3 linked regions of the Homo sapiens genome follow. The protein of the gene in region 2 purifies or fractionates together with the protein of the main gene of each other region. This does not show direct contact. Each region holds a gene or a part of one and is shown on either strand. Other genes may lie near its edges.

Evidence for each region.
Region 1: the proteins of EMILIN3 (region 2) and ANKRD50 purify together in Homo sapiens (co-immunoprecipitation; 2 studies listed by BioGRID and IntAct, with this or other methods). This does not show direct contact.
Region 3: the proteins of EMILIN3 (region 2) and RMND5A purify together in Homo sapiens (co-immunoprecipitation; 2 studies listed by BioGRID and IntAct, with this or other methods). This does not show direct contact.

The regions. Positions count from the first base shown.
Region 1 is NC_000004.12:124,711,304-124,715,051, forward strand, and holds the start of ANKRD50 (ankyrin repeat domain-containing protein 50), read right to left. Parts: upstream 1,430-3,748; 5' UTR 1,155-1,429; exon of another isoform or gene 1-1,154.
Region 2 is NC_000020.11:41,365,374-41,369,121, reverse strand, and holds the start of EMILIN3 (EMILIN-3 precursor), read left to right. Parts: upstream 1-2,303; 5' UTR 2,304-2,487; coding exon 2,488-2,654; intron 2,655-3,748.
Region 3 is NC_000002.12:86,765,291-86,769,038, forward strand, and holds part of RMND5A (E3 ubiquitin-protein transferase RMND5A), read left to right. Parts: intron 1-568; coding exon 569-734; intron 735-3,748.

The sequences.
Region 1 (3,748 bases), on a different chromosome or scaffold from region 2:
TGCAAAATATCATATGTTAAAAACTTATTAAGGACAATAAAGGTTGCAGTGTACCAGTTAACGTAATCTCAAAAATCCACGTACTTCACCTTTGGCACTTTCAAAAAGTTGGACAAAAACCACTGAAATAATCACATTCTCCCTTCTGCATTTTTCTTCCTCATTGTTATGCTTCCCAAACAGCCACATTTTAATCAAGTTACCCAAGATTTTTGCAACTTCACCATAGCAAAGGAGGGGGGGAGAAACTTTACGCACATACAGTAACACCCTTAACTCCAGGCAAAACGCTCATTCACAGTAGACTGGTAGAACAGCGCCAGCTAAGGAAGCTCTATTAACTTACACAGTCCAGTCAGTCAAGGACTGTCTACTCCTCCAGCCACACTTCTTTGTTGATAATGTGCAAAAATCTAGGGGAAGATTACCAGGGTTGCAGCTGGATGGGAAACGGTTTAAAAAAAAAAAACAAAAACGATGGGGGATGACTGTTCTTATAAGAATGATAAAGCAAACACAAGTAAAATGTGAATCCTTCCTTCCTCTGGGCCAAGGATGGAGGTCAGGGATAAAATCTACCAGTCTGGCCGGAGAAAAGGCTGCTAGAGAGAAATTCCTTCCAAGACAGGAAAGGGATAAAGAGTAGAGTGCTTCGGTGCTGGTGGGTGTCTGCCCACAGGTCCGGCCTCCAGTTTCAGCTGACAGACAAAAGGAACTCCGGGATTCCCAGCGCCGGGCACCACCTTGGGTTGGAACCGCCCAGAGGAGCCACAGGGGAGCCACCTCAGAGAGGCCACGAGCGAAGGTGCAGCCTCCACACCGAGGTCTGCCCTTCCAGAGGCTGGGAGCGCCTCTGCACCCCGCCCCGCACCGAGATTGGGGTGTGTCTTTTGAAGGGGGAGGGGGTGACTGAGGTCCTTGCCAATCCCAGACGAGGGGTCGCCTCCCGGTCGGCTTCCGCCTCTGCGCTCCCGCCCCATGCCCCGCTCCCGCTCCCACCCGGCCGACGGCGGTGCGAGGGAAGAGGGCAAATCTGGGGCTCGAGGCCGGAGAGGGTGGGTGGTTGGGTCAGGTCCAAGCCACGGCCTCGGCCTCCCAGCTTCCAACCCGAGGGAGGGGCCTCGCTTCCACCGCCGCCGCCGCCCCCCGGTTACCTCGGCCCCAGCCGCCGCCGTGGCCGCCGCTGCCGCTGTTAGGGACTCTCAGTCTCAGACACTTGCTTCGCTGAGAAGTCGCTGCCAGCAGCGCTCCCAAGACTCCACTCCAACTGCAGCCGCCTCCTCCGCCGGGCCCGGGGCACGCTCCCAGCTCCGGATCCTCCTCTTGGCCCCCGGCGGCTGCCAGTTCCAGCTTTCCCAGCAGAATCGGTCGTGCTCGCCCCAGCCCCCACCGGCCAACCGCCGCCGCCGCCGCCGTCAGGGCAGTAACTGTCTCAGGCAGCCCCCGGCCGGCCGGCTCCGCCCCGCCCGCCCAGCCCAGACCCCGCCCCCGCCCCCGCCCCCGCCCCGCCGCTCGGCCTTTCTTTGCCCGCCGGCTCCGCCTCCGCGTCCTTCCCCTCCCCCACCGCGCTCTCCCGCAGCATCCCGTGCCTGGGCGTGTGCGGCCGCCTGGGACCCGCTGCCGGCGCGGCGGGGAGACCTGTCTCGGGGCGGCGTGGGGGCCCCGCCTTTCTCAGGGGAGGCGGAGAACGGGGCGGGGGCTGCGTTCTCACGTCTCCGAGCTCACGCGAGTCGTTGCCCCCACCCTCCCCGTCACCACTGGGCCCTGATCCTTCCTTTGTCTTCCAGGCCGGAGGGACTCGCCGGCTGTTGGTGCCGTATCTGCTCCTGGGAGGGGCAGTTGGGTAGGGGGAGATTGCCTCTTGCCTCTCTCTGCTCAACCCTTTTGCCTCTCCCTTAACCCCGTTGCTTCCAAAGCCACTTCGGGCCCCGTTCTACCCCTCAGTCGTCCGGTCTCCTTTCAGTCCATTAAATTCCAGGGATGCTTTTACTTTGGCTGGGACGAAGAGAAGGAAGGAAAAGACTGGGAAGAATGTTGCGAAAATAGAAATAGTGGGGGTATACAGCGACATTCCTACCAGCCTCATGAAAAGGACGTGGCCTCCATCAGATGGAGGTTGACAGCAGGCTTGACTGGGTCTCAGGCCCCTGCTCCTCAGGGCCACTTGATCACCCGCAGCGTCCACTAGGGGGGAAGGTCTTGGTCATGTGGCGTCAGGAAATGCCCTAGAGGGCCTGCTCACAGGGGCCTGTTGGACTAAGCATGTCAGTTGTTTGCACTTACTGGACCTGAGTTGCTTAGATTCCAAATTTCTCCCGGGAAAATAAGTATACCGTCAACTGATGGAATAGGAAATGTAGCATTTTTTATTTTAATTGTTTATGCTAAAATCCAGAGTGCTCTATTTCCCATTCCTCATTAACTTGCATGTGGTTATTTGCCAAAATATTAAGCCAGTCTCCCATCTAGTTTTAGAAATTTCATAGTATAGCTATCACAATAAGAAAGATGGATAAACAAATAGATCGTGTTTGTGCTTACTCTTTCATATTGTTTATTCGTGCCAATTGAGGTTTACTGATCTTAGTATTTAATTTTAATTCATGTACCCTGAATTTTGGGCTTCTTTCCTAAAACACAAGCAAAAGAGGCAGAGTATAAATTCTCCAGAATTAGGGGGATGAAAATTGATTTTTAAAAAGCTACAATTTTTATTTATTTTTGCCTAAGCTGTTTTAATTCCCACTTAGCTTGTTTGCCACGCAGCTTTATAGTCATTGAACAGGTTGACTCCTTCAGTTTCATGGTTGTAAAATTTTATGTTTAGAGGAAAATTTAAATGAGAAATAATGTATATCACATTATCATTTCTATTAAGCCGTTTGCTAACACAATAATTAAAATAATTTCTGCCCAGTAGAGAAGTTACCGAAACTTTTTGTTTAGTGGGCCTCATTTATGATAACTAAGCAGTATCATGGAATGCTGTTTTAAATAACATCAGCTGTAACTAAGCTGTAATTAATCTTCAGACCTATTTAGAATTTTGTTTTTTGCTTTAAAATTTATTTCACATTTTATTTTTATTGCTTTTTGCTTTTTTTAATAGAAAACCCTTAACAGTGACGTATATGTATATATACACACATATATAATTTTATGAAACTTCTTTTTATCAATTACCTAAATGTTAAACGTGGCATAAGCAGAATACTTACTCTTGGTACATATTCACATACTTTAATCAGTTTCTTAGTTGTATTTTCTCCAATACCAGATACTCGCATTTTTCCAAAGAATGCAATTTTTTTCAATGTGGCCTTTCTTATTTTTAATTTGTTCATAAAATTTCCTGAAATCATCACAGTTTCACATAAATTTGAAATTACTGACAGCTTTAACGAATGCTTCTCTGAAGACTATAATGTTTTAAATGGAAAATTAAGTGGTGAGATACGTATTAAGCTCAAAACACACTCTGCTAAATAAAATATATTCTCCATTCTAATTTCTCTATATTGAAATGTACAAATTTTTCAGTTCAAATCTTTTCCTAGCTGTTGTATTTTTTTAAACCTCACTCAGTTATATTGTGCAACAAGTGTTTTTACAAAACAAAGCTCATTATATAAGTCTTGAAAATGTACGTTTATTTTGATGGTATCAATCAAGTTTAAATACTACAAAATTATGTCATCTCAATTTTAATCCATTTAGATACAAAATATAGTTTCATCCAATTAAAAGC
Region 2 (3,748 bases):
AACTGTGGTCCCAGCTACAGAGGAGGTGGGGGCAGGAGGATCACTTGAGCTCAGGAGGTCGACGCTGCATTCCAGCCTGGGTGATGGAGCTAGACCTTGTCTCTATTTATTTATTTATTTATGGAGATGGAGTTTCGCTCTTGTCACCCAGGCTGGAGTGCAATGGCATGATCTCGGCTCATTGCAACCTCCACCTCCAGGGTTCAAGTGATTCTCTTGCCTCAGCCTCCCAGGTAGCTGGGATTACAGGCGCCCGCCACCACGCCCGGCTAATTTTTTTATTTTTAGTAGAGATGGGGTTTCACCATATTGGCCAGGCTGGTCTCAAACTCCTGACCTCAGGTGATCCCCCCACCTCGGCCTCCCAAAGTGCTGGGATTACAGGCATGAGCCATCGCGCCCAGCCCTGTCTCAAATTTAAAAACACAACCAGAAAGGCAGGGCGCGGTGGCTCACGCCTGTAATCCTAGCACTTTGGGAGGCCGAGGCGGACGGATCACGAGATCAGGAGATCGAGACCATCCTGGCTAACACGGTGAAACCACGTCTCTACTAAAAAAAAAAAAAAAATACAAAAAAATTAGCTGGGCATTATGGCGGGCGCCTGTAGTCCCAGCCACTCGGGAGGCTGAGGCAGGAGAATGGCGTGAACCCGGGAGGCAGAGCTTGCAGTGAGCCGAGATCGCGCCACTGCACTCCAGCCTGGGCGACAGAGCGAGACTCTGGCTCAAAAAACAAAAACAGAAAGAAGAGGAAAGGACACAGATCACAGTCACAGAGAAAAAAAGGTCACCTGAAGAGGGATATGCGGAGGGAAAGTAGAGGCTGGAGTGATGCTGCTACAAAGAATCCTTGACCAAAGAACGCCAGAGATTGCCAGGAACCACCAGTGGCTGGAAGAGGCAAGGAAGGCTTCTCCCCAGAGCCACTGGAGGGGGCATTGCCCTGCTGGCCCATGGATTTTGGAGTTAGCCTCCAGAAATGTGCAAGAATACATTTCTGTGTGTTAAGCCACTGAGTCTGTGGCTGTTACCACAGCCCTGAGAAACTCACACAACCTACACCTGGAAGCTGGATTCCTTCAGCTTCTGTGTTCTGATTCCAAAGCCTGGGGGAAAGCAGGATGGGCCTAGCTGGGGTCAGATGTCCGCCCCACAGAACCCAAAAGCCACTAAAGCTAAGGGCAGGAAATAGATGTGGGTTTCGGAGCTGCCCCTTCCAGTATCCTTGATAACCATCACCCTATCCAAAAGGCATTAATTCATATCTCAAGGTCAATTTGGAGGGAGGTCTCTCCAAGCAAGCCCCAGAGTTCTGTACACCTATCAGCTCCTGGGGCAAAGACACAGACGGCTGTAGCCACCGGTGTGGATGAGACAAGGCCAGGAAAGTACCGCTCTGATGACAGAATCAGAAGGACTCTGTGCAGGTTAGAGAGTTAGCAAGGTGATACTGAATGAGGACGACGATAAAACCCAACTCTTGGGTTCCAAGAGTCAACTTCACAAGCAAAATGTGGACGACGCCTGGCTTCACCGCGGCAGTGCCTTGTGAGAAAGACCTGAGGATTTTCTCTGACCAGCCGGCTTAGAGCTTCAGTTGCACGAAAAGCACAGCACTTTTGGCTGGGCTGGGGCGGTGATAGGCCTTTCGGGCTCGGTGCAACCCATACCTAAGACAGAGAGGCAACACAGGCGCCTCCAGAGAACCAGAGGTGCAACCGGGCCACCAGGCTACGTGGCAGAGGTTGCGGGGTAAGGGGGAGGTGGGATGCCTGGGGAGAGGTCAGCGGAGTTATCAAACTAAGGTTCCCGGGCAATGATGGGGCCAGGAGGCAGAGCGAGCAAACGGGGATGATCTGGGGTCTATTCCAAAGAGGTGGCGGGGGAGGTGGTGCTGCTGTGCCCCCAGTCACGGCCATCTCGGCTCCAGAGCCCTGGAGAGCAGTTCCCGGGTTCACACGGACTCTGAAGACAAGCGTATCCTGAGGGTGGACGACTCCTGGAAAGTCCACGCCCAGGCTGGCCTCAGGGGTCCGCTTCTCTGCGTCTCGCCCCGTGCCCGCAGGCGACAGAGTGGCTGGTGTGCTCGGGGGGCCTCCCAGGGCGCGGCGGCCTGCGCCCCTGCCACCTGGGGCTGCTCCCTTTGGAACCTCCTGTTCGCAGGCGGCTCCTCGGCCGTCCGCTCGGAGCTGGGGCGAGGGGCTGGCGGCGGCGAGCGGCGCGGCCCCAAGTTTATGCTAATCCGCAAAGAGCCCGCCTCCCGCCTCCCCTCCGCGGCCCCAGCCGCTAGCAGCGCCGGCCACTCCGCGGGACGCAGCCGCCGCGAAGCGCCAGGCGGCCGGGCCAGCGAGCTCGGGGGCCGAAGGGGACCCCGGGACCCTCGGGGCGGGACCCGGGCCGACCAGCGGCGGGGGCGGCGCGGCGCTGCAGGCGGACACCCGGCGGGGGGCACCGCGCGGGGCCGGGCAGAGGCGCGGGGGCCGCTATGGGCCGCCGCCGCCTGCTCGTCTGGCTGTGCGCCGTCGCGGCGCTGCTCTCGGGGGCGCAGGCCAGGGGCACCCCGCTCCTGGCGCGGCCTGCGCCGCCCGGTGCCTCCCGCTACAGTCTCTACACGACGGGATGGCGCCCGCGGCTGCGCCCGGGGCCGCACAAGTAAGCGCGGGCGGGCGGCGGGCGGGAAGAGGGAGGGATGGGCCCGCGCGCGTCGCCGCTCCCACCTGCCCGCACCCGCGGGGGGCGTCGAGGCCCCGGGCACCCCGAGGCCGCTGCACAGAGGGGGCGGCGCCCGGGGCCGAGCCCCTGCCCAGGCGAGCGCCCTACGCTCCGGGAGGTTGCGGGGCTGGCGAGGAAAAAGGAACCGAGGGGGCCTGGCGCGGCGGCTTGGGATCCTGGCAGTGCCAGCGGAAACCTTTCCAGCGAAGTAACATTTTCCAGCTGCGCTGTGTGCAGACTCCGGGCGAGCGGACCAGGTGGAGGGAGAGGAGGAAAGGCGGTCCGCGCGCTGAGCACGCGGGGCTCCCCCGCCCCGGGCCTCCCTTCTCTCCCCTGGCCCGGCCAGGTAGGAGATAGAGCTGCGCATCCGGGCGGCCGCTGCCCTCTCGCAGTCAGCCTGGCCCCAGCAACCCCATGGGAGCCCCAGCGTGGCCGGGCTGCAGAGCCAGAGCGGGCTCCTGGCTCCGGGCCTGTGCTGTGGCACAGCCGTCCACAGCGGTCGGCTTATGCCAGGCAGCCACCTCCTCAGCCCTTGTGGCTCATCAAGGAGCCTGCTTTCCCCGCCTCAGCTTCTGGTGTTTCGTGGGCAGTGGCTTGCGAACTGGCCTCAGTTAAGTGGGCTGGAGGCTCTGCCTGGGGTGCTGGCTGAACTTGAATTCTAGCTGAATTTGAGAGCTGTTGTAGGAGGAAGAGTACCGACACTCAGTGGGCCTGGGTACATCACAGCGAGCCTCCTGGAGGAGGTGGTACAAGAACTGCTCTGAGAGTAAGGGAACAGGACCAAAGGCAGGGGCTGCAAAACTACGAGGAGAGGTGGATTTCCCCGGGAGCCAGGCAGGGAGGAAGGACAAGACATGGTGCTCTCAAAGGAGTCACTGAGTGGGGACTCGGAAGCCTTAAATGCCAAGATAAGGAGTTTGGAATCAGCGAAGGATGGGGGGGTGTGGCAGGGCACTTGAGGGAGAATCCGGGCTGGCCTCTTCCCCACGCAGGGAGGGGCAGCCACATCAGGCTCCTGGTTCCAAATAGTGCTT
Region 3 (3,748 bases), on a different chromosome or scaffold from region 2:
TAAACAGTTGTAGTTGATAATCACTTACAGGAAAAGTTCTGACTGGCTCTAGACAAAAACAAAAATATTAAAGCCTCTTAGAAGTCAGAGATGTTGCAGATTTTGGAATTCCATATTAAACTTAGAGGAGATGTGAGAAAGAGCAAGGTGTGCACTTGCTCTTTTCCACCCCCACCTGGCTGTATGCTGCTGCTCTTGCCACAGCAAAGTGTCAGAGAGCCAAGGTGGCAACTGTCAACCCCACGAAACTGTGTAGGAAACATTAACTCTGCAGTCAGAGATAATGTGATGACATAATTGTTACTTCTCTAGGTAATGGTAATTATACTATGCTGTAGAGAAGAATTTAAATTATAAGTTCAGTATTTTCACTGCTTTCCTTTTCTTCCCTTTTCTCTCCATGCTGTTTAATTTAGGATGAAGGAAGAAACCAAGCTTAAGGACCAGAATTTTAAAAGACCTGTTAATACATTATTTTAGGCTGTATCAGTATGGGTGGGGGTATTCTTGCTTTTCGCAGCTTATTACTGCAAGCAAACTAATGCTTTCTTGCTGGTGCTTTTTTTAGACATTCAGGTTTTGATGGGAAGCCTTGTGTACCTGAGACAAGGGATTGAGAACTCACCATATGTTCACCTACTTGATGCAAACCAGTGGGCTGATATCTGTGACATCTTTACACGGGATGCTTGTGCCCTCCTGGGGCTCTCCGTGGAGTCCCCTCTCAGTGTCAGGTATGGAAATTAGCCCTGTCTGTTATTGAAGTATGCACTGCATTATCACCTTCCCTTAACTTGTTTGGTTCTTGATGTTTAAAGCCAAAATAACTTTTGTCTTTCCAAAGAAGAGTGCAATTGGTATTTCAAAAGATATCACAATTGGCAGTGATGCTGTTTTAGAGAAGCAGTTTTGAAAGTGTGGTGTATGAACCTCACAGGATCCTGAGAGCCTTTTCCACTGTATTGACATTAGTACAGATGGTCCAGAAACAGTGGTGGACTAAACTGCTAGAGCCTTAGCACAAGTTGGGGCGGTGGTACAAACTCCACGAATAGCTGGATTCCTCACCACCACACACTTGCAGTTTAAGAAATGCTAGTTTTACTTAACCACGTCTGTAATCTCAGCATTTTAGGAGGCCTAGGAGGGTGGATCACGAGATCAGGAGTTTGAGACCAGCCTGGCCAACATAGTGAAACCCGCCTCTACTAAAAACACAAAAAATTAGCTGGACGTGGTGGCGGGTACCTTTAATCCCAGCTAGTCGGGAAGCCGAGGCAGAAGAATCGCTTGAACCCAGGAGGCGGAGGTTGCTGTGAGCCAAGATTGCACCATTGCACTCCAGCCCGTGCAACAATGCGAGACTGTCTCAAAAAAAAAAAAAAAAAAAAAGAAAAGAAAAAAAGAATATTCTTGGCCTGGTGTGGTGGCTCACATCTGTAATTCCAGCACTTTGGGAGGCTGAGGTGGGGGGAATCTCTTGAGGCCAGGAATTCAAGACCCACCCGGGTAACACAGCTAGACTCCATTTCTACAGAAAACTTTTTTAAAAAAGGATGTTCTTGGTGAAACATTAAAATTATTAGTTTTATTAAATCTTGACCTTTCAGTACACATCATCTTAATAATTTGTATGACAAAATAGGAAATCCACATAAAGCACTTCAGTTTCATGTCAAAGTATGGTAATTGTCTTGAGAAAAAGTATGTTGTTTTGAGTTATGAGCTAGCTGGTCACTTTTTTTCATGGAATACTTGTTTTGTTTGTTACTTGTTTTTTTCTTGCTTTTTTGAGATGGAGTCTCCCTCTGTCCCCTGGCTGGAGTGTAGTGGCGCAATCTCAGCTCACTGCAGCCTCCACCTCTTGGGTTCAAGCGATTCTCCTGCCTCAGCCTCTGGAGTAGCTGGGATTACAGGCGCCTGCCACCACGCCCAGCTAATTTTTGTATTTTTAGTAGAGACAAGGTTTCATCATGTTGGCCATGCTGGTCTCGAATTCCTGACCTCAGGCGATCCACTGCCTTGGCCTCCCAAGGTGCTGGGTTTATAGGCGTGAGCCACCGCACCAGCCTTGGAATAGTTTTTACTTGGAAGAATCATTAACATAGTTACGCACACTCAGGTTTTTGGCAGTCTTTTTTTTTTTTTTTTTTTTTGTCTTTTTTCTTAAATTTTTAAGACATTCTTGCTATGTTGTTCAGGTTGGACTCAAACTCCTGGGCTCAAGTGATTCTCCTGCCTCAGGCTCCTGAGTAGCTGGGAGTACAGTTGTGTGCCACATCACCCAGCCATTTTTTTAAGTGAACGAAGCAAGCCTGTCACATTTGAAAGGTCTTAATTAAGTATGATTTTACAAAAGCATGCATGAGTAAAAGAGTCATTCAAAGTACAAGACAGACAAATGGATTTTAATGTAGCAGGGTACAAAAAGTTTAATGGTAAAGTTTCAGATTCTGCTCTGCAGCGAACCTTTAGAAAACTACTACCTGTTTTGGCCAAAACTATGAAAAGTCAGTTTTCGTGTGGTATTAAGGAGGAGTATCCACAATGATCCAAAGTGATCAAAGTAGTACTACACATATGTGTGAAACAAGGTTTTTTTTCATTTACCTCAACCAGAAGAACGTATCACAATAGATTTAATGCAGAGTAAACTATAAGAATCCAGCTGTCTTTCTGTTAAGGTAGGCATTCAGGAGAGTTGTGAGAGTTTGGAACAGTGCCACTCTTCTCACACATATATTTTTGTTTTGGAAACTGTAGTTATTTTTTTATAAGAATGTTTGCAATAATGGCATGGTATTTTATTTTTACATGAACTAATCGGCACCTTTTATGTTTCTCATTTTAATTTCTAATGTATTAAAGATATAATCCACAAAAAGAAAAGCTCTTTGAGATCCTTAATACTTAAGCATATAAAGGGGTCCTGAAACCAAAACATTTTAAGAAACTGTTGTAAGAAAATAACTCTTTTTTAGCTCTTCTATTCATTTAATTCCACAAATGTTTTGCATACCTGCTATGTGCCAGGCACTGTGGGCACTGTGTTGGATATGAAGATGAATAAGGTGCATTCCACAGGGTGCTCCATCCTAGCGTAGGAGTGGACAGATGCAATTAGCTATAATGTGAGGCGCTGATGCCATCAAGTTCTCTGAGGAAGACTCTAAAGTGGGAATGTACATGCAGAAAGTTTACTGACATCAGCACCTGTGGGAGAATGAAAACAGCAGGATTGGGCAGAGAGGAAAGTTGGACTGTATTAGAGTGGCAACAAGGTGTCTCCCATCCGTGAGGAGCTCTGGAGCTGCTGTGGGCCCGTGGAGTTGTCCCAAATTGGGCCTATAGGGCTGGGGTTTTGTACCCTCACATGGAGCAATTGCTGGATGTGACTCTGGTCAGATGACTCTCTTCAACTGAGGACAGTCCTGAAGAGACGGACACAGCTGAGAGTTGGCTGCCAACACTTCCAGATCTGAGAAATGAGTGCTTCCACCCTGGACAGGGGTGATCTGGGGATAAGAGGAACTATGCAAAAAAAATGTTTCAGGAGCAAGCATGTCATTTGACTGATAAGCTGAGCCCATTAAATCCAGTTGTTTTGTGCAATATAAAACCTTTTTTGGCACTAATGTAAGATTATTATGAAATTCTTTATATTTTACTTTTTGAAACAGGGTCTCATTCTGTTGCCCAGGTTGGAGTGCAGTGGCACGATCGTGGCTCACTGCAGCCTCAACCTCCT